Homo sapiens: one gene and its partners. The protein of the gene in region 5 purifies or fractionates together with the protein of the main gene of each other region. This does not show direct contact. Each region holds a gene or a part of one and is shown on either strand. Other genes may lie near its edges.

Region 1 (3,500 bases), on a different chromosome or scaffold from region 5:
TAGGAGGAAATCAGTGCATAGAGAGGTTAACTTTCCTACTATCACAGTGTTAGTAAGTGGCAGAAGTGAGTTTTGATTTGAGGTCTGACTCAAAAGGGTAAAGGTATTGGTGGAGGTGGAACACTGCTGTTAGATACCCAGCACTCTGAATACATTACTTCATTTATTCCTGCAGCAACCCTGTAGATACTGTTCTCATTTTGCAGATAAGGTAACTGGCTCACAGATTAATTTGCACAAGATTAAACATCTGGCAAGTGATGTGTTCTGCATGTCTGACTCTGAAGCCTTTGCTTATTACTCTATACCGTTCTGCAGAGTAACCGTTTTATCTGCAGGTGTGAAAAATGTGCACATAGTACATATTGAAGTCTAATTTTTTCTTTAAAAATTGTACAAATCTTAATTCATTTTCAGATAGATGATATTGTTGGCTATTACATTTGCCTTGGCAGCAGTTGGAATGGATGAAAAGACCATATTCAAATGGGATGAAAAACAAGTTTAGAAGACCTTGAGTGACTTAGTAACAATATATTAATACATTATTAAGAATGTTATGTTTGTACATTTTGTTTATTCTTTATCAACAGTCTTTCAAAACAAATTTATATGGAGTGAATAGAAAAAAATTAGGAATTTTTTTGATGTAAATATTCTTTATTTGCTGCAGATACACTTATGCAGGAAAGGTTAATAGATAGCATATTTCAAAGGTATTACCTAATTATATTTAGTTGTTCAAAAAATCAGCCCAGCTTTCAATATGATTTACTAAAATCACTCCTTTAACAATGACTTACAGGGTCTTCAGGCACTGATTTGGTGTTTTCTATTAGAAACTTTCTAACTTTTGATGTACTGAAAAAGTAGTCAATTTTATAACCATATGTTGTAAAAGTCATTTAAAATGATAGCTAGAAATGTGAGCATAGAATGAAGTAATTGAACTTAAAAAAAAAACACTGATGTTGTAATACCTAGAAAGCAAATATGGAATATTTACTTAATTTGAAGTCTTAGGAGCCTTGAATCATTTTCTTCTCTTTACAGTAGTATTACAAAAGTATTACAAATAGCCCAAATTTTAATAGTTTATTTTGTGGAAGATGCAGATACAGGTTTGATTAAATGAAGAATACATTTTTATAGATGAATTTGAAACACTAAATCGATAATCCAAATTCCAAAGGAGGAAGTAGTTCAACTATCTGTGCCTTTTCTATATTTGAAGAGCTTAACCCATTTAAGCAAAGATTTTACAGAATTTTCTTTAAATGTTCTGTTCTCTTAAATCCTTTGGGGGAAATGGTAGATGCAAAACCTCTTGTGACACTCTTACTAAACTCTTGAATTTGGAATTCAAGGCCCACTTCCTAGTGTCAGTTTATCACTTCAATCTTCTCAACTATTATTCTCCTTTTTATCCCATTTAGTTTAGTGATATAAAATATTTCCTATCATAAATATACCTTGTTACATTTCTTTGTCTGTCTTAACAAATCTTGCTGTCAAAGTCCTGTATAAGGTCTGACTCTTGTGCATATATGAAGATAGTTGAGAGCAGTGGGTAGCATTGTGGTTAAGAGAGACCCGTAGCAGAGGGGCCAGTTTGGGACATTATTGCAAGAGTCTGGGCAAAAGATAAGGTCCTGTGTCTTTGACTTTGTAGTCAACAGAAAATTTACCAATAAGAAAAAAAAAAAAGAAGTTCATGAGGTCTTGAAGTGGTAGGGGGCGGGTATGATAATAAAGCTGCTAATATAGGCTGGGCATGGTGGCTCATGCCTGTAATCCCAGCACTTTGGGAGACCAAGGCGGGTGGATCACCTGAGGTCAGAAGTTCAAGACCAGCGTGACCAACATGGTGAAACCCCGTCTCTACTAAAAATAGAAAAATTAGCTGGGCATGGTGGCGAGTGCCTGTAATCCCAACTACTCAGGAGGCTGAGGCAGGATAATCGCTTGAACCCAGGAAGTGGAGGTTGCAGTGAGCCGAGATGGTGCCATTGCATTCCAGCCTGGGCAACAGAGCAAGACTCTGTCTCAATAAATAAATAAATAAATAAATAAATAAATAAATAAATAAAGCTGCTAATACTTATTGAGCTCCTACACTGTGTGTCAAGCACTTTACACATACTGTATCATTTAAATCCTCATGACAGCCTTTTGAGGTGGAAAGGTTACTTATTCCAATTTTACTGATGAGGAAAGTGTCCGGGGACTTAGGAACTCTTCCAGAGTTACCCAACTAATGGAGCTGGGATCTGAACCCAGGGAATTTGACTTCAGCCTGTACTTGTAACTACTGTTCTCTATGGGTAGAAGTCAAAAAATGGAAAGGAGGCAAATGATAGAAAAAATGTTGCAGAGATTTAATCTCTAGTATTTCTAAGTGGGTACATGGGAAATGGTTTGAATGAAAAGGGAATGTGTAAGAGGGTGAGGTCGCCTGAGGTTTTAAGAAGGATGAGGTTACCTGAGATTTTGAGATTTGGTGACTGACAGGCTGAATTGAGATGCCATTGACAGAGAAGAAAGTATAGTAACACTGAAGCCCTGGAAGGAGAAAATTTCAAGGAGAATGGTCTGATTCAACAGTGTCAAATCCTATGTGTTTAAGCTATGCCTTTCTTTTAAGAGTTTATGCTTTGCTAGGGGAGGTATGATAAATGTATAACCACAGTAGAGTTCAGAAATAAGCTAAGAGTCATATAATTGGAAATATGACATTCAGAGGGAGACTGGTGGCGTTAGGATGCGGTGGGGTGGCAGGGGAGAGGCCATTTCCAGCCTCATCAGTGGTCTGTGAAGGAAGACCTCTCTAGTGGAGGTGGTATTTAAGCTATAGGCTGAATTGAAAGTAGGCATGGTAGATGGAGGAAATGGTTTGTGTGTAGACATGGAGTTGTGAAACCCAGGTAGTGCTAATGAAACAACATAGACCAGATTGATGGGATGAGGTTTATGTAATGAAGCAGTGAGAGAGCCAGCTTGAAAGACAAACGGACAGAATTATGTGAAGGGTGAGGTGAAGGAATTTGGTATTTATTTAGTAGTTAAATTATCCTAAGCACATTGGATTAAAAAAAAAAGAAAAAATACTATTAAGTATATTAAACATGTAATTTGTGCTCATTATTCTTGTAAGCGTTTTATATGCATTATTTATTTTAATTCTGAGAATGAGCCTATTAAGTAGATATTATTTTATTCTAAGACTCTAAAACAGGGTTTCTCAACTGCAGAACTATTGGCCAGATAATTCTTTGTTGTTGGGGGCTGTCCTGTGCATTCTAGGATTTTAGCGGCATCTGTGGCCTCTACCCACCTGATGCCAGTAGTGTTCCCTACCACTACCCCTACTCCTACCCCAGTTGTGACAACCCAAAATGTCCCCAGACATCTCCAGATGTCTCCTGGGGAACAAAAGGAGCCCAGGTTGAGAATCACTGCTATAAATATTATAAGACACACTATTGTGATCTAAAAAGGTT
Region 2 (3,500 bases), on a different chromosome or scaffold from region 5:
TGCAGAGATGGGGGTCTCGCTCTGTTGCCCAGGCTGGTCTCAAAGTCCTGAGCTCAGGTGATCATCCTGCCTCGGCCTCCCAAAGTGCTGGGATTACAGGCGTGTGCCACCGCGCCCGGCCCTTCCTCCTGTCTTGAGCCCATCTCCTACCTCCAGGCCTCAGGCCAGAGGGAGGAACAGATGTGAGGGTGCCCAGGGAGAAGGGAGGGCTTCCTGGAGGAGCAGCTCTAAGGGGTGATGTTGGGGGCTGAAGAAGGACATGTATTCTGGGCCGAAGGAAGTGGATGTGCCAGGCCTGGAGTTGACATTGAATGTGGGGTTGTGTGTCTGGACGCGGAGAACCACGGGGAACCGGGAGCTGCGGCCAAGGGGTGCTGGGGAGCCCTGAGGGTGGGCAGTGGGGGTGCCGCACCTTCAGCAGCAGCTCCACGACGTCCATGTGCACCAGCCCCAGCACTGACTCCCCGTTGATGTGGGTGATGAGGTCCCCAGCCCGCAGGCCCGCCTCCTGGGCGGGGCTTCCGTCCTCCACACTCTGGGGGCAGACGAGAACGGTGGGGTCAATGGCCTGGGCCCCACATCTGGGGACCCCAGCCCAGGCTGGGTCTGCTGTGGGACCCCAGCAAGCTGCTGCCTCTTGTGCTGTCTCAGTTTCCCTGATCCTGGGGGAACTCCTACTCACCCATCAAAGCCCCAGCTCCTACGCCCCCTTCTCCAGAAAGCCTTCTGTGTCTGTTCAGGGAGCAACCAATAGGGAGGGCATGCCTCGACGCCCTTGGGCTGGGAGAGGGAGGATAACATGCCCAGTGCGTCCCCATATGGAGCTGGGAGGTTAATGCCACTTGGGATCTGTGAGCTTCCATCCATCCATCCTTGTCTCTCTCATCTGACCTCCTCCCTGCCAAATGACAGGGACCGAGATGAACTCGGTGGCACCAGCTCTATCTACCTAACCCTGCCAGGCTCCAAAATGCAGCTCTGAGAAGGGACATGACCGGGCAGAGTCAAACTAGAACCCGGGTCCCTGCCATTCCCACTCGGCACTCACCCAGACGACGTGGTGCACAGTGTAGACGTCGCTATCACCCATGTAGACGCGGATCGCCCGCAGGCTGAAGCCGTACTTCTTGCCAGAGCTGTGGATAACGATGGGGGGCCGCAGGCTGCCACACACGGGGGACGGGTCTCGGCTCGGCGAAGAGTCACGGGACGACGGGTTCGAGGACAGAGAGCGCGGGGAAAGGGGGCTCATGAGGGGGCCGCCGCTGCCATCATCTGCAGGGGGTTAGGGAGGGGGTCACTCACTCCCTCACAGGTCTCCCCTGGGGCCCCCTCTTTCCCACCACAACGACCACCCTGGCCACTTTGCTGTTGCTTCAATGTCCCAAGCATGGTCACCCCACCAGGCCTTTGCACGTGCAGTGCCCTCTACTGGGAACACCATCTCCCCAGCTCTCCATGTGTCCTACTCCTCCTCCCCTCTTCTGGGGCTCATCCCCAGCCTCCCCAACTCAGGAAGGGCCCCCACCCTGTTGGTGAAAATGGGTGCAGACAGACAAAGGTGAGAGGGGCCTTGGGCATTACCTGCCGTGATGATGAGGGACAGGGCAGAGACAGAGGCTGACTTGGGCACGCGGCCCCCACTGCCGCCACCACTGCCACCGCTGGAGGAGGCTCTGGACTTCTCAGGGGCTGGGTCTCTTGGGCCCCCAAGGCGGCGGCCCCGGCCGGCATCCAGAGGCCTTGGTGTGGAGTGTCGGGCGCCGATGCTATTGCTCCGTAGGCGGGCGTGGCTGAGAGCAGCTGTGTCGGCTAGAGGGTCAGCAGGGTCAGCTGGGTGCCCCTCAAACTCACCATGTGGTCCTAAAGGGACCTTAAGGCCCTTCCTCCCTGGTCACTATTTACACAGTCCAGCCTCCTGGCCTTTGCTCATGCAGTTCCCTCTTCCTGCACTCCCTTCCCAAATTATTCTCTATGCAAAAGTCTTCAAGTCCCCTCCTCCAGGAAGCCTTCCTCCACACCCATTTAGACCCTTAGTTCCCCCATCTTGGGAGCTAGGGGTCCCATCCTGACTCTATGAAGCTGGGGGCATTTACCCTAGACTGGGGTTCCTTGGGGGCTGGGGGTCTCTCTGGGACCCTGGCTTCTCCTCTCTTAAAGCCTTTGTTGGCTCTGGAGAACTCCTACTCATCCTTGAAAACCCATCTCAAATAGCCCCTCCTCTGGGAAACTTCCATGACATCATCCCTCTTACTCAGGGCCCCACTTACCAGAAAGGCTCGAGGGCTTGGGCATCACTGGGGTGGCCGCTGGTGGGGGGTCAGGCTCCCCTAGAATGAAGACGGGCCTCTTGGGGCCTGCAGGGCCTGGGCCTACCCCCTCATCCTCTGATGAGAAGGCAAACTTGGGCATTGTGTCCAGGCTGATGGTATTCAGGAGAGATGGGCTGGGACCCCGCTCGGGCTGGGACGAAGATGACTGACAGGAGGATCCAGAGGATGTCCAGGACCTCAGCCTGCAGGGAGGAAGAGCCTGCATCACCCCTGCCAGGCACCTGCACCCCAGGATACTCAGCCACCTTCATGGCCACATCTTAACTCTCAGTCTGCAGTCAAGGGTAATTTGCATAGACAGGACGAGTTCCTTCTGTCTGCACTGTCCTCTCTGTCCACCTGGAGACCGCTTATTCACCTTTTTTTTTAAAGACAGGGTCTCACTCTGTCACCCAGGCTGAAGTGCAGTGGTGCAATCTCAGCTCACTACAACCACTGCCTCCAGGGCTCAAGTGAGTCTCCTGCCTCAGCCTCCCAAGTAGCTGGGATTATGGGTGCCTGCCGCCACACTGGGCTAATTTTTGTATTTTTAGTAGAGACGGGGTTACACCATGTTGGCCAGACTGGTCTTGAATTCCTGAGCTCAAGTGACCTGCCTGCCTTGGGGTCCCAAAGTGCTGGGATTACAGGCGTGAGCCACTGCACCCGGCTTCCTATTCAACTTTTAAAACCCAGCTTCCAGGCTGGGTGCAGTGGCTGACACCTATAATTCCAGCACTTTGGGAGGCTGAGACAGGAGGATTGTTTGAGGCCAGGAGTTCGAGACCAGGGCGGGCAACATAAGGAGACCCCATCTCTGCAATTTTTTGTTTTTTGTTTTGTTTTTTTTTTTTGAGACAGAGTCTCGCTCTGTCACCCCGGCCGGAGTGCAGTGGCACGATCTTGGCTCACTGTAACCTCCGCCTCCCAGGGTCAAGCAATTCTCGTGCCTAAGCCTCCCAAGTAGCTGGGATTACAGGCGTGCACCACTATGCCCGGCTAAATTTTTGGAGTTTTAGTAGAGATGGGGTTTTGCCATGTTGACCAGGCTGGTCTTGAACTCCTGACCTCAGGTAATCCACCTGCCTCGGCTTCCCAAAGTGTTGGGATTACAGGTGTAAGTCACTGCACCTGGCCTACAAAAAATTGCTTAAAAAATTAGCCGGGTGCCGTGGTGCACGCCTGTAG
Region 3 (3,500 bases), on a different chromosome or scaffold from region 5:
GCTCTGTTTCACTTTTTTTTCTTTAGGAAGGGTTTGCTTTAAGATATTCAGCTTTGTTTTTCAAGAAATAGTTATTTCTTGTGAAAATAAGAAAAATAAAAATCAGCAACCTCAGGAGGCAAATTATATTTCTGGTGGAATGGAAAAGCTACATGCTCAGAAGATGCCATGGGATGGCCTATCTGTTGGTTTTACAAGTGTATTTTTAAAAGACTACCTAGTTCACTTCATGACAAAGAACAGTGGCAACCAACACTCCATTTTCTAACTGGAGGAGAGAATTCAGAGACTTCCATATGGCTTAATTATACCAATATGTATTAGGAAGGCAATTTTTCTTGTCTATTGTGAACTGCCTGACTTGAACGCTGACAGCTGTATAATTTTAATTTGATCGTGTTATTTTTCTCTTAAAGTCAAGCAAAAGATGCTGAAATCCAGGTTTGCTAGATTTTTCTAAGTGGAATCCTGTAAGAATCCAGAAATATTTAATATCTTTCACTTTAAAATTGGCAACTTCTCATCTGCTATTTCACTCAAATTGTTATTCCTTCTCAGAAAATATCTGTGATTTTATTTTAAATAAGGAGAGCAAAATGTTTAGCAGGGGGTGTGATTTTAAGCACCCTCCATCTACTTGCCCCTTAAACTAACTGGCTTTCTGCAGATCCATTTATTAATTGATAGAACTTTAGACAAACATACACTGAAAACCTACCAATAATTAGAAACAGCTATAATGAACTGTGAGGAAAAGAACTGAATCCTTACCATATAATTTTCAATGATTCACTGTGGTAGGGAGGTAAATGATACAGGCACTGAAATCAGCTTCGCATAGTCAGAAATAGAATCCTTACAGAAGATGAGGAAGATGATACCCTGGAATGCTCTTTTCAAATAAATGATTTTGTTTTGGATAAATCAAACTGGCAAGGTTTCTACAAGGTTAAAAGCTCATTAATTTAGATGCCACAAATTCTGAACTCTTGATAATAAGGCCTGGTTTAAGCTAAACAGAATATTTAGAAAAAAAGCCTTTCTAGAATCTCAGTTTGCTGCATGTAGTTACTTAAGATATATTAATTATAAACGGTTCTTGGTATTTTTAAAAGCAGATTCCAAAGGGCCTCTGCTTGGCTGTATGTATATTAGCCTAGTTGGCAATTCTGTGTCTTCTTGGAAATAATACATGCTTTAAAATCATAGCCATGCTTTATTTACCCAGCATTGTTGAGGACTGGAATGTTCTACTCAGCAGGGTTATCTAGATGACAGACAGACAGAGCTAGAGGCTAAAACAGTGATGGAAAGTTATCACAGGAAGGGAACTTAACAGAACTCAATGTTCCTCAAATTCTTTCAGTAAAATCTTTGGGTTTCATTTGAAAATTCACCTCGATTTTACATTCTACTGAAAAATATTTGTGTTCATTTTCATATAAAAATATCTTCTCACTCCAAAATCTTTGGGTACACTGAGCGACCAGGAAGGTGTCTTGTTTGTATTCTGTGGTTTGACATCTTCATGAACCTCCGGTTGAGCAGCTGGTACAAATTCTTCACTTCTCCAGGAACAGATACAGAGAAGTAAAAGGATTTACCCAGATTTGTTAGAGAGAGCCAGGATTGGAATGTAAGCTTCTGGACAGCCAAGAGAGTGCTCCACGACAAGCCCACACTTACTCCCTCTGAGGAAGTGCTTTCAAACCTCCTACTCCTGAGGTGCCTGCTAAAAGGGACCATTCACATGGGTCACATGGCCTAAGAGATGATGAGGCTATTTCTACTCGATATGGGCCATGTAACATTGGTTGGCATCAAAGAGCTTGAATGAAATAACAAGTGTTGATACCCAAAGCCAACTTCAAGCTGACACATGAAAATGTTCCAAAGACTTTTTTTTTTTTTGAGACGGAGTCTCACTCTGTTGCCCAGGCTGGAGTGCAGTGGCGCGATCTCGGCTCACTGCAACCTCTGCCTCCTGGGTTCAAGCAATTCTCCTGCCTCAGCCTCCCCAGAAGCTGGAACTACAGGGGCCCGCCATCTCGCCTGGCTAATTTTTTGTATTTTTAGTAGAGACAGGGTTTCACTGTGTTAGCCAGGATGGTCTCGATCTCCTGACTTCATGATCCGCCTGCCTCAGCCTTCCAAATTGCTGGGATTACAGGCATGAGCCAACACGCCCGGCCTGTTTCAAAGACTTCTGAACAGTTTAGTGGATAAAAATTGAGAAATATAAGACATTTGAACTTTGGAAGCACAATGGAAAAACAGCAATAATCAACAATCCCCAGCCCAAAATTTAAAAGGAAGGTGATACAGAAAACATCAAATGGGAGAAGGAAGTTTCCTCTTCTTGGAGCCTGAATCAGATTACTGGCCAGGGCAGCTTCCAAGAAAGCAGATCTGGGCAAAGGACAGGAAAGATCAAACACGTGCCAATCATTCTCTCGATTTCTAATAGTATTGATCCACCAGTCACTGAGTACCTACTATGTGCTAGGCACTTTGCCTTTGCTGAGGATCAAGGCTGAAGATGTCCCGGGCTCAGCCCTCCAGAAACTCAAAGTCTGGTGGGAGCCACAGCCAGTGATTTGAGTCTCCTACTTGCGAAGTACAGGGTGCTACTGGTAGCACTTAGGAAAGGCACTTTAGTCCTGGGAGGTCCAGGGAGCCTTCTCAGAAAAAAGAAAAGCAGGAATTCATCAGATGGAGGGAAAGGGGAATGTGTGAGAGGAGCAGCATGTGCAGAGCGGAGGGGCAGAGCATGCTGTTCTGGGGAGTGGTGAGTAGCTCCAAAGGAGTGAGGTAGGCATGGGGTGCAGACTGGTAGATGAGACTGAGAGACAGGAGGCCAAACCTGAAGCCCCCATGCAGTAAGCTATGCTTGCAAGTCTGAACTTTCCTCTAAATGCTTTTAAGCACAATAAATGACATAATCAGATTCTTGTCTTAGAAAGGTCAGCTGCAGTGGACAATAGGGATGCTGATTAATTGAGGCTTGAAATAGACCTTCTGAAAGAAATTTCTATCACTTGACCTACTTGGATTTTTCTTCTTCTCAGCTGAAGCTTGCAAATTCTTTTTTTTTTTTTTTTTTTTTTACAGAGAGGAAAGAGGATGAACACAGACATTTAATGGACATGCATCACGCTTCCTCCCTGCCTATGCTAGACATTTTACTTAATAGGATTTTAAGTGGATGTCAAGCAACTTCCCACTGCACTGTTTAACAATTTGGTCTAATTCCAAGTGCTTTTTGTACTATATCATACAGATTCCTTTCAACAGTTATTACATTTTAATTACCGGGTATGGAAACCTCTCTGAGAGGAGTAACACATATTTCTACCTTCCTAAACATACCTACTGACCACAGTTTAATATTTGTTTTGAACAATCAGGGTCCTTGTTATGACTACTTATTACTATTTTAGTTTTAAAATGAATAACAACTCTTTTATTTCATCAAATAGTGTGTCAATGTTCCAATTTAC
Region 4 (3,500 bases), on a different chromosome or scaffold from region 5:
TTAAAGTCCATTACTACCCTAAGTATAAAAAGCCTAATGAAATCCACTTATTTGTCTCTAGAGACAAAGAAGATGGAATCTCTAAATTTAAAAAACCAAAAACCGGTGCTATAAAAATGCAACAATTTTCTCTTTGGCCAAAAGATCAGTTAAAATAAAATGGTCTTCAAACAGAACGTTTACAATTAGCTAGGGGGAAAAAAAACCAACAAAAAAACTATGGGGAATGAATTTAGAGAGTCCAAAACAGCTTAGTTTACTTAAATGTTACTTTAAAGGTAATTCTGGCTCTCAAAAAAATTAGGATGATTAATAGGTCAAGTTAAATTGTCTATCAGACAGGGTTCTAAGAAGAGAGACTCAAACTCTTTTTTACGGGCAGGGTTCTGAGAGACTCAAATTCTAATGCTGTAAGGTATCCATCAGACACCTGTAATGGATGCTGTAAGGTATCCATTAGACTCGTCTCTCTTAGAGACGATGGATTAATACCCTTCTACGGGTTTGCAATGGCACTAGTTATGTACCATCCTTGGATAAACTGAGATAACAATCACTGAAATAATTTTCTGTATTGTATGGTTCAGAAGAACCAGAGGTAACCCGTGGTGGTGGTGGGGTCTTGTACATTATCTACATTATCCTTTGATTTGTGGCACTATGTGGTAAAGACTGAAAATTTAAGCATAATTAGGATAACTTATTTGTAGAAAATGTAAGCATGAAGCTCAGAGTGAATATGCTTCTCTTAGTTAGCTAGGTGAGACTACTCAAGATTATCTAGGATAGATACCACATTAGAAAATGTTTAAGGCCATTGTTCTAAGCACTGGTTAATTTTCCCACAGTATTTTCAAAGCCTTCACTGTAGATTAATATTGCATGTAAAAGTTAAAGCTGAGGGAAAAACTCGTGTGTGTATATTAACACCTATCATCTTATGGTAATAGACTTATTCTTTTTTTCATATTGTTAAAGCTTTAAAACAAAAATCCTCGAAGGTAAATGCCTATGTGTAATGTTCTTAGTTTACAAACTAGGATGCAATGATCTTTTACTGTTTACTTACTTAGCCTTAGAATAATTAAAAAATAAACACAAATGCAAAAATCTGCTCTAAAAGAGAAAAGTCTCCACACTGAGACACTAACTGTAACTCAATAAAATAACTAAACAATAATCTTTTGGTAGCCAAAAGGACATCCATGAAAAGTAAAAGCTATAAACTACAGAATAATTCTCATTATAACACTTATGAGAAAGAGTAAAATATTATATACTTGAGAGCTGTAATTTTAAAAACTTTTTGCTTTAAGTGGCATGCCAAATTCCATGGACGTGTAGAAAATTTTTGACTGAAAAAAAGTTCTTTCTTTTGCAAAATTATTCTTCATACTGAGATTAGTATTTGCATATAGGCAACTTAGAACATTGATAAGAGGTATTTCAGGTGACAAACTTGCCTTCTTTTTAAAACATTTTATCATTTAATCACTTGTATTTTTATATAAAAAGGGGACTATCAGAATAAACAACTACTGAATGGTAATGGAGAGCTCTGAAATAATTTAATTTTAACTCTCAAGGGCTAAGAAAGTCAGTATGTTCCAGAAAATCAATCTCCTTTTGCATCTCCTTCTACTGGCTGTTTACCAATATTAAGATATTAGTAACAATAGGCTTAGTCCTTGAACAATCTGGTAGTTAATCATAGATGAAGACATATTCCTCCTTTATTTCTTTTTAAAAATAAAAGTAGCTATTATATGAACAATTTCTTTCTTTTTTTGAGACAGAATCTCGCTCTGTGATCCAGGCAGGGTAGTGCAGTGCTGCGAACATGGCTCGCTGCAACCTCTGTTTCCTGGGTTCAAATGATTCCTATGCCTCAGCCTCCTAAGTAGCTGGGATTACAGGCATGCACCACCACGCCCTGCTACTTTTTGTATTTTTAGTAGAGATGGGGTTTTGCCATGTTGGCCAGGCTCATTTTGAACTCCTGACCTCAAGAGATCTGCCCATCTGGGCCTCCCAAAGTGCTGGGATTACAGGTGTGAGCCACACTGCCCAGGCTATATGAATAATTTCTAATTGTAACAAGAAATAATGCTCATCTAGAAGACTCAAAAATTAAAAGTTTAGGAAGTAAAAACAAACAAATCCCTCTCTTAATCTCACATCCCTTTCTAATATGGTCTCTATTTTCTGCTCTCCTTCACAGTAGCTATCTCTGTTTCCTCACCTCTCATTTTCAAATCTACTCCAATCCAGGCCATGCCCTGACACTTCCATGAAGCAACTCTTATCAAGGTCACCAATGACTTTTATCTTGCCAAATCCCCCAGTCAATTCCCCATTCTCATCTTAGCTCTCTTGTTCTGCATTTGATATTCACACATTCAGTACTTTCCTCCTCCTTGAGATACTTCATCTACTGGGCTTTTGTTTTTTTCCCCTTACTTCACTGATCTCTCCTTTTTAGTTTCCTTTGATGACTCATCCTTCTTTTAAAAAATAATCAGACTTCTAAATGTGAGAATGTTTTTTTATTTATGTACACTCTCTCTTTAGGTACCCTCAACCAATCATGGCTTATAAATATGCTACCTCTCGTATATCTTCAGATCTGACCTTATCCCCGAGCTCCAGATTCACATATTCAACAACCTACCTGACATCTCCATAGGGACTAAACATGTCCAAAACACACCTGATTCCCCAAATTCACAAACGCTTCACTGCCCACAGATTATTACTCTGTCTTCTCTACCTTGGTAATAGCATCATCATCTAACTATTATACTTGTTTAACCCAAATAACCGGAAGTCATTCTTGACTCCACACTCTTCCTCCTCCCCATATCCAAATCACATGCAGTTAACTAATTCAACCAGCCCATATGTTCTTTTTCCACCTTCTTCAAATGCTTCCCCTTCTGGAGTTAAAAACAGCAAGCACTTTTAAAACCATCACAAATTATTAACTTCATCCCATATTTAACTGCTACTTTGTTTTTTTAACCAAATTTTCTCTGTGTGTGGGTGGGGTTTTTTTCCAGCCAAGTTTTATTAACATTTTTATTTAAAGTTAAATTGCAACCCTCTCAGAGAAGTATTTCTCACCTATTGATATTCCACTAGAAAGAGTAGAACTTTCAGCTTGGCCTCGAGATGGCGCATGGGGCTCCATGACGCTATCATCTAACAGATGTCTTGGTCCTGCATTTGGAAACGTTGCACTCTTAAATTCTGCTGTGTTCATTTTATGAATGAAACTAGAAACAGAAAAAAAAGTTCATATCTTTTATTATTGTTACTAATTTAAAAACTGCTCTTTATATAAAGATTTAGGACATAAAAGATTTACCTAACTGTCATACTCAGATCTTACCATAAAAGCCTCAAATGAACAGTTTAGGGAAAATGTTTTAGGAAACCTGGCCCTATCTATCTATATAATTAGAGCATACTTTAAAATAATTTCATTTTAAGCCTCGTGT
Region 5 (3,500 bases):
GCTTAAGGAACAGGATTGGCGCCAACGTTGTGACTTAGTAGAGAAGAGAGGCCTGACTCAAGTTTGGTGGAGGAGAGAATCTTTGTCATCCTTGCAGATGGGGGAGAAGGGGGAGAGAGTAGGTGGGACTGCAGTTATTTAACTGTGATTTTCATTCTGACTTATCTGCATTACTTCTGTGACCCTCCATAATTGACTGTGTTTCCTACTGACCATGTAAGGAGAGCAGATGCCCTTAATTATGGTGCAAAAGATGCAGGATTGAACCTAATTATACAACATAATGTTATGGCAAAGAGTTGAGGAGCCTTTCCCAAGTTGTTTTTTTAGATAAGTGGTTTTCACTAGCTTTCCAGTTTGGTACTACAGTAGATACTTTGCAAATTATTAGCTTAAGAACGGTATAGCATTTGATTTGTTTGGCCCATCTCCCATATACCATATAGTGATAGGATTATCCCTATTTATACTTTATTAGAGGCATTAAAAATTGCTAAATGCAATAGTCATTTGTTGAGCTAGTCCTGTGTGTAGGTTCTCTATTAAGCACTTTATGTATAAGGATTTAATGAGATGAATGCAACGTAGGTAAGTTATTTGTTCAAAGTAACAAAGCTTTTTAAGTGGCAGATCTTGGATTCATATCCAGTTCTGTGGAACGCCTACCTTTGGTGGTTTTTCACTGTGTCTAATGAAATACTTAAAACATTTTTAACCATGAGATACTCATTATAGGAAATTCAGATAATATAGACTAGTAAAAGATATGAAGAACAGAGTGAAAAATGTTTGTTAATTCATTAGCCACTGTTAGTATTTTAGATTTGGTCTCTCAGATTTTTTATATAGGTATTTTTTTAAAAAAAATAAAAGCTGATCATATGTTTACATGTCTTATAACATGTCTCCTTCACTTAAGAATATAAAATGGTCCCCTCTTCAACGTATATTATTTTCTTTTTTCTTTTTCTTTTCTTTTTTTTTTTTTGAGACGGAGTTTCGCTCTTGTTGCCCAGGCTGGAGTGCAGTGGTACGATCTCGGCTTACTGCAACCTCTGCCTCCTGGGTTCAAGTGATTCTCCTGCCTCAGCCTCCTGAGAAGCTGGGATTACAGGCGCCCACCACCACACCCAGGTAATTTTTTTGTATTTTTAGTAGAGATGAGGTTTCCTCATGTTGGCCACACTGGTCTTAAACTCCTGACCTCAGGTGATCCACCTGCCTCAGCCTCCCAAAATGTAGGGATGACAGGCGTGAGCCACCGCACCCGGCCTCCAACATATATTCTTATATGTCGACTGCCTAATATTCCATTGAAGGGCTTCCCATTCATGAATCTCCCATTGAACATTTAGATTTACTTTTAGGCTTTTAGTGAATATCTTCATATGTTTTCTTCAGCTCATTCAGTTGTTTCCTTATGATTAATTTCTAGACATGGAAAGCTTGGTTAGAAGCTATGCACATTCACAACTGTGATACATATCAGATTGGTTGTATCAATTCACACTGCAGCCAGCAGTGTCTACCACTTTAGTATTAAGCCTTTAATATTTGTCAGTGATCTGATAGATGAAATATACTTCATTGTAATCTGTTTGATTATTGAAGAAAATGAATAAACAGATGTATATACTTATATGTTATAGATATTTATTAGCCATTTAAATATCTTTTTGTTGTTGTTGTTGTTTTTTGAGACAGAGTCTTGCTCTGTCCTGCAGGCTGGAGTGCAATGGCACAATCTTGGCTCACTGCAACCTCCGCCTCCCGGGTGCAAGCAGTTCTCCTGCCTCTGCCTCCTGAGTAGCTGGGATTACAGGCATGCGCCACCATGCCTGGCTAATTTTGTATTTTTAGTACAGATGGGGTTTCTCCATGTTGGTCAGGCTGGTCTCAAGCTCCCAACCTCAGGTGATCCGCCCACCTCGGCCTCCCAAAGTGCTGGGATTACAGGAGTGAGCCACCGCACCTGACCCATTTAGAGATCTTTTTACGGTTTTCCTGTTTATATTCATTTTTCTGTTGAGATAATGTTTCATATTTATAAGAGCTCTTTATATTTTAAGGCTGTTCACCCTTGGCCTATTATGTTGTGATATTTTTTCTAACATGTTCATTTTTTAACTTCATTTTTTTTCTTTGCAATGCAAAATTTAATATTTGGGTGGTCATACCTAATCTCCTCTATGGCTTCTATTTCATATCAGGCTTAGAACATGTAAAGTACTAGAATAACCATCCTACTCCTTTTAGCTACTTACTGCCCTTGGTTGCAACTCATAGAAATGCCTTTGAGCTAACTTTGGGGTGGTGGGGGGAAGGAAATGGTGATTAGATACCAACTGTCTTATAGAACCCAAGTATAGGAATAACTTGGATTTTACAAGGGACTGGAACCCTGAACTAGAAAGCTATTCAGCAACAAAGTGGCCATTCTTTCAGTCTTTCACCAGGGCACGGGTGACTTCTCCATGCCACCAACAAGCAACCAGACCACATCAACTGTGGCTTCAATTCCAATTTTGAATTTTTGGGAGAGAGACTCCAATAGGTTCAGTTTGTCTCAGATGTCCACCTTCTCCACAGGTGATTATGGCTGCCAGGACCCACCCCTGAAAATGGGCAGTTCTTTAAAAAGGAGGTGGTGGTAGTTAGGGCTGGGCAGATAGTTTCGAAGATTCTACTACTATAGATAACTCAGTCAACAAATATTTGAGTACCTTATTTGTTTCAGGCACATATTAGAAGACAGATGAAATGACCAAATAGACAAATGTGTCAACAGGCAAATAGTGTTTGTGTCTGAATGTGCCTGCTGCCCTGCCTTGCAGACCTTGGGGAGCTGTCTAGGCTAGGAATTCAAAACTGCCCCAAAAATGCCATAGAAGGGATAAAGACTCAGGCCAGCTTTGGAACTAAATATGGCTATATGGCTTGAAGGTTTGTACCAATAAATGAGTATTACATGTTAATATAAGATGATGTAGCTCTTCAGCCACAGGGGTATAAACCTGGCTAGCATGACACACCAGAGCTCTGCTCATTGTTGTTTGTTCATTTGTTTGTTTTTTTGAGATAGTCTCGCTCTGTCACCCAGGTTGAAGTGCAGTGGCACAATCTTGGCTCACTACAACACCTGCCTCCCCAGTTCCAGCAATTCTCATGCCTCAGCCTCCCGAGTAGCTATGACTACAGGCACATGCCACCACGCCTGGCTAATTTTTGTATTTTTAGTAGGGACGAGTTTCCTCATGTTGCCCAGGCTGGTCTTGAACTCCTGGCCTCAAGTAATGCACCCACCTTGGCCTCCCAAAATGCTGGGATTGCAGGTGTGAGTCACTGTACCCCACCTGCTCCCTGTTATTTTATTTCTTTTGCTCATCTCATTTGTCTAGGCAGGTAGGGTAATGACAGACATATTTGGTGAATGGATGTTTATTTTATAAAACAAAAGTTCAACTTCTATAGTTTCCCCTTTTTTAATTAGTCTAAGATAT
Region 6 (3,500 bases), on a different chromosome or scaffold from region 5:
CTGGCAACCACTGTCTTACAATGTAGTGCTCATGCCTCCTCTATTCCCTTTAGTCTTGTCTTCCCAAGTTATCCTTCTGAAAAATAGATTTCTTTAGTTATCTTTTTGAGCATGCACAGAATACAAAACTCAAATGATACAAAAGCATGCTCTATTGCAACCAACCTCCGATTTCCCAGGTCCTCTCCCTCTCCTGAGGCTGACTGTTGAATGGCTGAAGGGAGAAGGCAGGGATGACTAAACAAGACGGAGAGGAGGTGGCAGGGGAGGGGACAGAAATGATGGAGGGACAAGCCGGGGACCTCAAAGGGAGCGATCAGGGACAGCACTCACTACCCTGCACCTGCTGCCTCTTTTCTAGGCATCCAGAGAGCTCTCTAGGCCTCCTCGCTCGATTCCTCACTCACCTTCTTTGGAGAGAAGACGCCCACAGTTCCCCCATCCTCCCGGACGGCCACCCCCATCTCAGCCAGCAATGCTTCTCTGTGGGCAGAGGAGAGGCAAATGTCAGTCTTACCTTCACTGCCCGTGACCTCCTTCCCTGTGGGGCCTGACCTCCCCCATGGCCTCCAACTCCACCCAGGACCCCAACTGTCGGCCCTCACACCTCTCCATCCTCAGGGCTTCTGTCTTGCGTAGCTTCTCCTCCCATGTCTCGTTCAGCTCAGCTATAATCTTCTCTGTCTCCTGGGGGCGTAAGGTGGGTAGGTTTCAGGATGGTCTGGGACAAGCAGACCCAGGGTAGGGACAACCTACCCTGGGGCCATGCTACTCCTAGAATTCCTTCTTTCTCAAGCTTGACTTTGGAGAAGTAAACTCCCAGGAATGCCCAGACCCCCAGCCCTTGCCAGCTCCAGCTTCCCACCTGCAGCCTCTCCATGGCTTCCTCAGGCCCAATCTGGGACTCCGTGTTGGGGGAGAATGACGGCTCCAGCTCCCCATTATGTGTGGTGGGTGATGAGGGTGAAACTGGAGCTGGGGGAGATGACACAGCTGGCAGGGCGCCTCTGACACTCCCTTCTTCCGTCTTCAGGCCTGGGAGGGAGAAAGAGGAAAAAGAATGAGGCTAAGGAAAGAAGGAGCTGATGAGAGACATCCAGGAGACCAAGAGCTTCACAGAGGACCAGTCTGTAAGGACTACAGAAGACTGCTGGTCAGCCTCCTACCAGGCAAGGAGCCCTCCTACTGCAGCCATGGTAAATGGGCACCCAGTCTCTCTACTTGAACTCCAGGGGTGGAGAGCTCATTACTGAAGGAGGCGGCCAGTCCTTTCCACTATTAGATGATTTGCACCATCAGAAAATTCTTAGGTGGGGCTAGGTGTGGTGACTCACACCTGTAATCCCAGCACTTTGGGAGGCCCAGGCGGGTGGATCACCTGAGGTCAGGAGTTCGAGACCAGCCTGGCCAACATGGTGAAACCCCGTCTCTACTAAAATACAAAAATTAGCCTGGTGTGGTGGCAGGCACCTGTAATCCTAGCTACTTGGGAGGCTGAGGCAGGAGAATCACTTGAACCCAGGAGGTAGAGGTTGCAGTGAGCCGAGACCACGCCATTGCACTCCAGCCTGGGTGACAGAGCGTGACTGTCTCAAAAAGAGAAAATTCTTAGCTGGGCCGGACACAGTGGCTCATACCTATAATCCCAGCACTTTGGGAGGCCAAGGTGGGAGCATCACCTTAGGTCAGGAGTTCAAGACCAGCCTGGCCAGTCTAGAAACCTCTGTGTCGAACTTTTTTTTCTGAGACGGAGTCTTGCTCTGTCGCTAGGCTGGAGTGCAATGGCTCCATCTTGGCTCACCGCAACCTCCACCTCCTGGGTTCAAGTGATTCTCCTGCCTCAGTCTCCCGAGTAGCTGGGATTACAGGTGCGTGCCACCACACCTAGCTAATTTTTGTATTTTTAGTAGAGACGGGGTTTCACCATGTTGGTCAGGCTGGTCTCGAACTCCTGAACTCAGGTGACCTGCCTGCCTTGGCCTCCCCAAATGCTGGGATTACAGGCGTGAGCCACTGTGCCAGGCTAAAACCCCCGTCTCTACTAAAAATACAAAAATTAGCCAGGTGTGGTGGTGGGCGCCTGTAATCCCAGTTATTCGGGAGGCTGAGGCAGGAGAATCTCTTGAACCCAGAAGGCGGAGGTTGCAGTGAGCCAAGATGGAGCCACTGCACTCCAGCCTAGCGACAGAGCAAGACTCCATCTCAAAAAAAAAAAAAAAGAATTCTTAGCTGTGCTGAGCTGAAACTGGTCCCACGTCATGTGTGCTAGTGTTTCTAGTTCTGCCCTCTGGGATAAAAAGTCCTTACTGCTTTCTCTTCTGCAAGAAAATCCCTCAAATGTTGGAAGGCAAACATCACTAGCTACCTTATCCTTCTCTTTCCAAGAACACTCATACTCCCCACACTGTGCCCTTCAGCACCCTAACTATCCTCAATGGGATGATCTCAAGACTGAATGCAGGGTCCATTCCTGACCGTCAACATGGATTACACATCCTCTGATTTGGACACTATTTCCATCAGTGAGGCTGAGCATGACATACCAGAAAGCACTCCACTGAGATCTGTTAGGCTATGGTCCACTTCAACTCTGACGTTTTGCAAGAACTTCTGTCAAGAAAGTCACCCAGTAGCCTAGCCTCTTAACAATTTACTGTTTGACCTGTAAGCATATATTGCCATTTTTTCCTGTAACAGTCATTTCATTACTTCCAGGAGCCTGACAGGTCCTTCTGGATCCTCATCCTCTCCTAGAGAATTAGTCCCTCCCAGCTCTGTAACATCTGAAGACATACGTTCCCTCTCCACATCTGTGTCCACGTCACTGAGCACATGAAAGGTTTCATAGTGTGTGGTCCCTCCCTGGCTCCAGGACTGGGCAAAGGCAAGTGAGGAGGGATGGGGTGGGCCAAGGGGCATCCCTGAGCTGCCCCTCCCTGGAACCTCGACCTTCCAGAGCAGAGGCTGACAGTCCCTGAGCCATCAGCAGTTCCCGCAGCCGGGCTACTTCCTCCTGCAGCTCTCTAATCAGCCGGGCATTAGGGTCCTCGTTGATGATGGCATTGCAGCGGATTTGCTTGGTGCGGTCAGCATACCTGGGTGACAGAGGAGCAGGGTCGGTGAGGCCTGGGGGCAGGGGACCCTTGGTCTGCTGTTTCTCCTTCCCCCTCTCCCAGGTCTCAAGATATTGTGGCAAGGCTCCGGCATCTCCCCCGTCTCACGAGCAGGGTCCTGAGCAACTCGCCTCTGAACTCCTGGCACTCTTCCTATGCTGCCCCATCCCTGCTAGAGCCAAAAGCCTCACCTGAGGGTGCTGAGAGTCTCCTCGTAATTGATGTCAGCAGGGCTCAGGGCTGCAATCATGGCTGTGCGTGAGTTCCCCCCTGTGAATGGAGTGCATGGAAAAGCTTCAGCTGAGGGAGGGGCTAAGCAAAGTCAGACCGGGTCACAGGGCTGGGGCCCACTGCCCAGGCAGAGGTCTTACAGGGTCATGGTCTGAG
Region 7 (3,500 bases), on a different chromosome or scaffold from region 5:
GCATGTAAAATATAACTCCATAAAAAAAAAAATACCATGAAGGGAGAGTACATGAAGGTATGGCTAGTAAGGCTGGTTGTTTAAAAAAAATACAGTGTGAGGCTGGGTGCGGTGGCTCACGCCTGTAATCCCGGCACTTTGGGAGGCCAAGGAGGGCGGATCACAAGGTCAGGAGATCAAGACCAACCTGGTTAACACGGTGAAACCATGTTTCACGGTGAAACACTGAGTACGTGTATTTTTTTTGTAAAAATACAAAAAAAATTAGCCGGGCGTGGTGGTGGGCGCCTGTAGTCCCAGCAACTCGGGAGGCTGAGGCAGGAGAACGGCGTGAACCCAGGAGGCGGAGCTTGCAGTGAGCCGAGATCACGCCACTGCATTCCACCCTGGGTGACAGAGTGAGACTCCGTCTCAAAAAAAAAAAAAAAAAAAAAAATATATATATATATATAGTGTGGCCATGGGATCTCCAACTGCATGCAAGAGCAACCTGGAGAGACTTTGACAGAACAGGTCAGCACAATCCCTGCAGCTGCCACTTGTCTTTCGTGTGTGTGTGTGTGTGTGTGTGTGTGTGTATAAAACCAAAATGTGTGACACAATAAATGCTGGCACAGCTCTGATTTCTTTTAAAAAGAAAATTAAAATAGGAGTTCTGGTTCTAATTATTAGCTATTAGCTACTTCTGAAATTCAGAAAGTACCATAATTAGGCTAAAGGGTTATATAATATGTAGTGAATCTTCAATGTAATACCATATACTCTGCTATTTTTCTTTTGCTAATTAGTTTTGTTACATTAGTAACCAGGCCATGCCAACACAAGTATTCCAGTCCATGTGATGATATTTCTCAATGTAAATTAATAAACTGAAATTCTAATGGTAAACATTTTTTCATAAATGTAGTTAGAGACCCCTCTGAAAGACAAAGCAGCTTTTGCCATGCTGACCAAATTAGATTTCTGAGCCTGCAAAAATCATCCTGGAGTTTCACAAATCCACCTAAATGCTGCTACCCATGACGTCTCTTGGGAGTCGGCCAGCAGCCTCTGGCTATACCCCAACCTGGGTTCTGAGAGCACTTTCCATTAGAAACCTCTATGCTCAATGAGGAGACTGGTGCTGCTGTGCTGGAAAGAGATCAAGCTGAGCAGGCAGGATGAGGCCTGGAAACCAAGCACACAGGAGATAGCCCCACTAGCAAGAAGGCCCTCATGGAGAGGTAAGGCAGGTGTTCATCACCCCTACCTACCATTCTGCCCCCCAATTCCCAAATACCTTCTTGAGCACCTCAACCTGGCGAGTATCTCCAGCACTAGCTCGGGCCTGCTCTAATTCCCTCTGCAAGACCTCTATCTTCTCTCCAAGCTCCTCTTCCATCTCCTCCTTCTCCATTCGCAGCTGCAGGAGTCTGAGCCAGGCAAGGTGAAATAAAGGGGAAAGGGAACAGAGTAAGGCCACATGCCTGGGGGAGGTTAGCATGACAATAAAAGCCACCTCTCTGGAGGCCAACACGCTGGGCACCAACTCTCAAGAGGAAGGAAGGTGAACGTGGAAAAGAGCAGTTTGAGAAATGGGAGAGTAAGAGCATACCATAGATAGAAAGGAAGTGGGCCAGGCATGGTGGCTCATGCCTGTAATCCCAGCAATTTGGGAGGCCAAGGCAGATGGATCACTTGAGCCCAGGAGTTCAAGACCAGCCTGGGCAACATAATGAAACCCCGTCTCTACAAAAAATACAAAAATTAGCCAAGTGTGGTGGTGCATGCCTATAGTCCCACCTATTCGGGAGGCTGAGGTGGGAGGATGGCTTGAGCCCAGGAGGTGGAGGTTGCAGTGAGCCCAGACTGTGCCACTGCACTCCAGCCTGGGCAACAGAGCAAGACCCTGTCTCAAAAAAAAGAAGAAAGGGACTGGGTGCAGTGGCTCACGCCTGTAATCCCAGCGTTTTGGGGGGCCGAGGTGGGAGGATCACGAAGTCAGGAGTTCAAGACCAGCCTGGCCAATATGGTGAAACCCCGTCTCTACTAAAAATACAAAAAACCCAGGCCTAGTGGCAGGCGCCTATAATCCCAGCTACTCGGGAGGCTGAGGCAGGAGAATCGCTTGAACCCAGGAGGCGGAGGCTGCAGTGAGCCAAGACTGCACCACTGCACTCTAGCCTGGGCAACAGAGTGTGACTCCATCTCAAAAAAAAAAAAAAAGGAGAAAGGGGGCCAGGCGCAGCGGCTCACACCCGTAATCCCAGTGCTTTGGGAGGCAAGGTGGACAGATCACCTGAGGTCAGGAGTTCGAGACTGGCCTGGCCAACATGGTAAAACCTCATCTCTACTAAAAATACAAAAATTAGCTGGGCGTAGTGGCATGCGCCTGTAATCCCAGCTACTTGGGAGGCTGAGGCAGGAGAATCTGTTCAACTCAGGAGGCAGAGGTTGCAGTGAGCCAAGATCGTGCCATGACACTCCAGCCTGGGAAACAAGAGCGAAACTCTGTCCCAAAAAATAAATTAAAATTAAAATTAAAATTAAAAATTAAAAAAAAGAAAGGAAGTGGCATATGAATCATGGGTATTTCTGAGAGGGCCAATGTCCTTACTCCTGCTTGGTGGCTCTAAGATCCTCCTTGTTCTTCTGGAACATACTCTGCCAATGCCCTGTCTCCTCTGAAGTCTCCTCCAGCTCCCTCTGCAGCCCTCGCACAAGGGCTGACATCTTCTGCCTCTCGGCCTCCAGCACTGCATGGTCCTAGAGAAGGGGAGAGTTGGACACCAGAAGGCTCAGAGGGAAGAGGTCACTTCAAATCAAAGTGTGAGTGTGTACAAGGAAAGGCTTAGACCCAGAGGGCACCATGCCAGGTGCACCCCCTGACACTCTTGTGGTACCTGGTACAATGCTAGCAGAGATTCTCTCCTCAAGTCACAGTCCACCCCTCTATCATCTACAGGAAACCTCCCCAGTTATTTCCCCTTGGGACTTTTTATTTTTAGGGGGACAGAGTCTCGCTGTGTTGCCCAGGGTGAAGTGCAATGGCATGATCTCGGCTCACTGCAACCTCCGCTTCCTTGGTTCAAGCGATTCTCCTGCCTTAGCCTCCCAAGTAGCTAGGACTACAAGTACGCATCACTACACCCAGCTAAGTTTTTGTATTTTTGGCAGAGATGGGGTTTCTCCATGTTACCCAGGCTGGTCTCTAACTTCCTGAGCTCAAGCAGTCCACCCGCCTCAGCCTCCCAAAGTGCTGGGATTACATGCATGAGCTACCGCACCCAGTCCCCCTTGGGACTTTTGTCACACAACCTCAAGGTACTTCTGGCCTGTACTCCCTCCCTCTGCCCCTATAGTTTTCCTGCCCAAGGTTTTCAGCAGATCTCACTGTGTCCTTTAGGAGGAGAGGGGGAGTTCCCAGTTGCAACCATGAAAAGTCCAAAAGTCCAAGATCCCAAGGCAGCCTTGTTCTCCAGCAGTGCCCTCCTCTCTCAGACCCTGCTCTTGTCACATGC

What was found.
Region 1: the proteins of PPM1H (region 5) and CAMSAP2 purify together in Homo sapiens (affinity purification with mass spectrometry, with the first as the bait; one large-scale study listed by BioGRID). This does not show direct contact.
Region 2: the proteins of PPM1H (region 5) and MAST3 purify together in Homo sapiens (affinity purification with mass spectrometry, with the first as the bait; one large-scale study listed by BioGRID). This does not show direct contact.
Region 3: the proteins of PPM1H (region 5) and SIPA1L1 purify together in Homo sapiens (affinity purification with mass spectrometry, with the first as the bait; one large-scale study listed by BioGRID). This does not show direct contact.
Region 4: the proteins of PPM1H (region 5) and RALGPS2 purify together in Homo sapiens (affinity purification with mass spectrometry, with the first as the bait; one large-scale study listed by BioGRID). This does not show direct contact.
Region 6: the proteins of PPM1H (region 5) and KIF1C purify together in Homo sapiens (affinity purification with mass spectrometry, with the first as the bait; one large-scale study listed by BioGRID). This does not show direct contact.
Region 7: the proteins of PPM1H (region 5) and CGN purify together in Homo sapiens (affinity purification with mass spectrometry, with the first as the bait; one large-scale study listed by BioGRID). This does not show direct contact.

The regions. Positions count from the first base shown.
Region 1 is NC_000001.11:200,741,893-200,745,392, forward strand, and holds part of CAMSAP2 (calmodulin-regulated spectrin-associated protein 2), read left to right. Parts: intron 1-3,500. UniProt on the Homo sapiens protein: Key microtubule-organizing protein that specifically binds the minus-end of non-centrosomal microtubules and regulates their dynamics and organization.
Region 2 is NC_000019.10:18,142,778-18,146,277, reverse strand, and holds part of MAST3 (microtubule-associated serine/threonine-protein kinase 3), read right to left. Parts: intron 2,618-3,500; exon of another isoform or gene 2,516-2,617; coding exon 2,271-2,515; intron 1,813-2,270; coding exon 1,585-1,812; intron 1,276-1,584; coding exon 1,049-1,275; intron 536-1,048; coding exon 413-535; intron 1-412.
Region 3 is NC_000014.9:71,666,476-71,669,975, reverse strand, and holds part of SIPA1L1 (signal-induced proliferation-associated 1-like protein 1), read right to left. Parts: intron 1-3,500.
Region 4 is NC_000001.11:178,885,744-178,889,243, reverse strand, and holds part of RALGPS2 (ras-specific guanine nucleotide-releasing factor RalGPS2), read right to left. Parts: intron 3,276-3,500; coding exon 3,124-3,275; intron 1-3,123. UniProt on the Homo sapiens protein: Guanine nucleotide exchange factor for the small GTPase RALA. May be involved in cytoskeletal organization. May also be involved in the stimulation of transcription in a Ras-independent fashion.
Region 5 is NC_000012.12:62,925,151-62,928,650, reverse strand, and holds part of PPM1H (protein phosphatase 1H), read left to right. Parts: intron 1-3,500. UniProt on the Homo sapiens protein: Dephosphorylates CDKN1B at 'Thr-187', thus removing a signal for proteasomal degradation.
Region 6 is NC_000017.11:5,004,450-5,007,949, reverse strand, and holds part of KIF1C (kinesin-like protein KIF1C), read right to left. Parts: intron 3,384-3,500; coding exon 3,305-3,383; intron 3,096-3,304; coding exon 2,950-3,095; intron 1,036-2,949; coding exon 866-1,035; intron 688-865; coding exon 608-687; intron 484-607; coding exon 408-483; intron 1-407. UniProt on the Homo sapiens protein: Motor required for the retrograde transport of Golgi vesicles to the endoplasmic reticulum. Has a microtubule plus end-directed motility.
Region 7 is NC_000001.11:151,524,887-151,528,386, reverse strand, and holds part of CGN (cingulin), read right to left. Parts: intron 2,746-3,500; coding exon 2,597-2,745; intron 1,413-2,596; coding exon 1,280-1,412; intron 557-1,279; exon of another isoform or gene 449-556; intron 1-448. UniProt on the Homo sapiens protein: Probably plays a role in the formation and regulation of the tight junction (TJ) paracellular permeability barrier.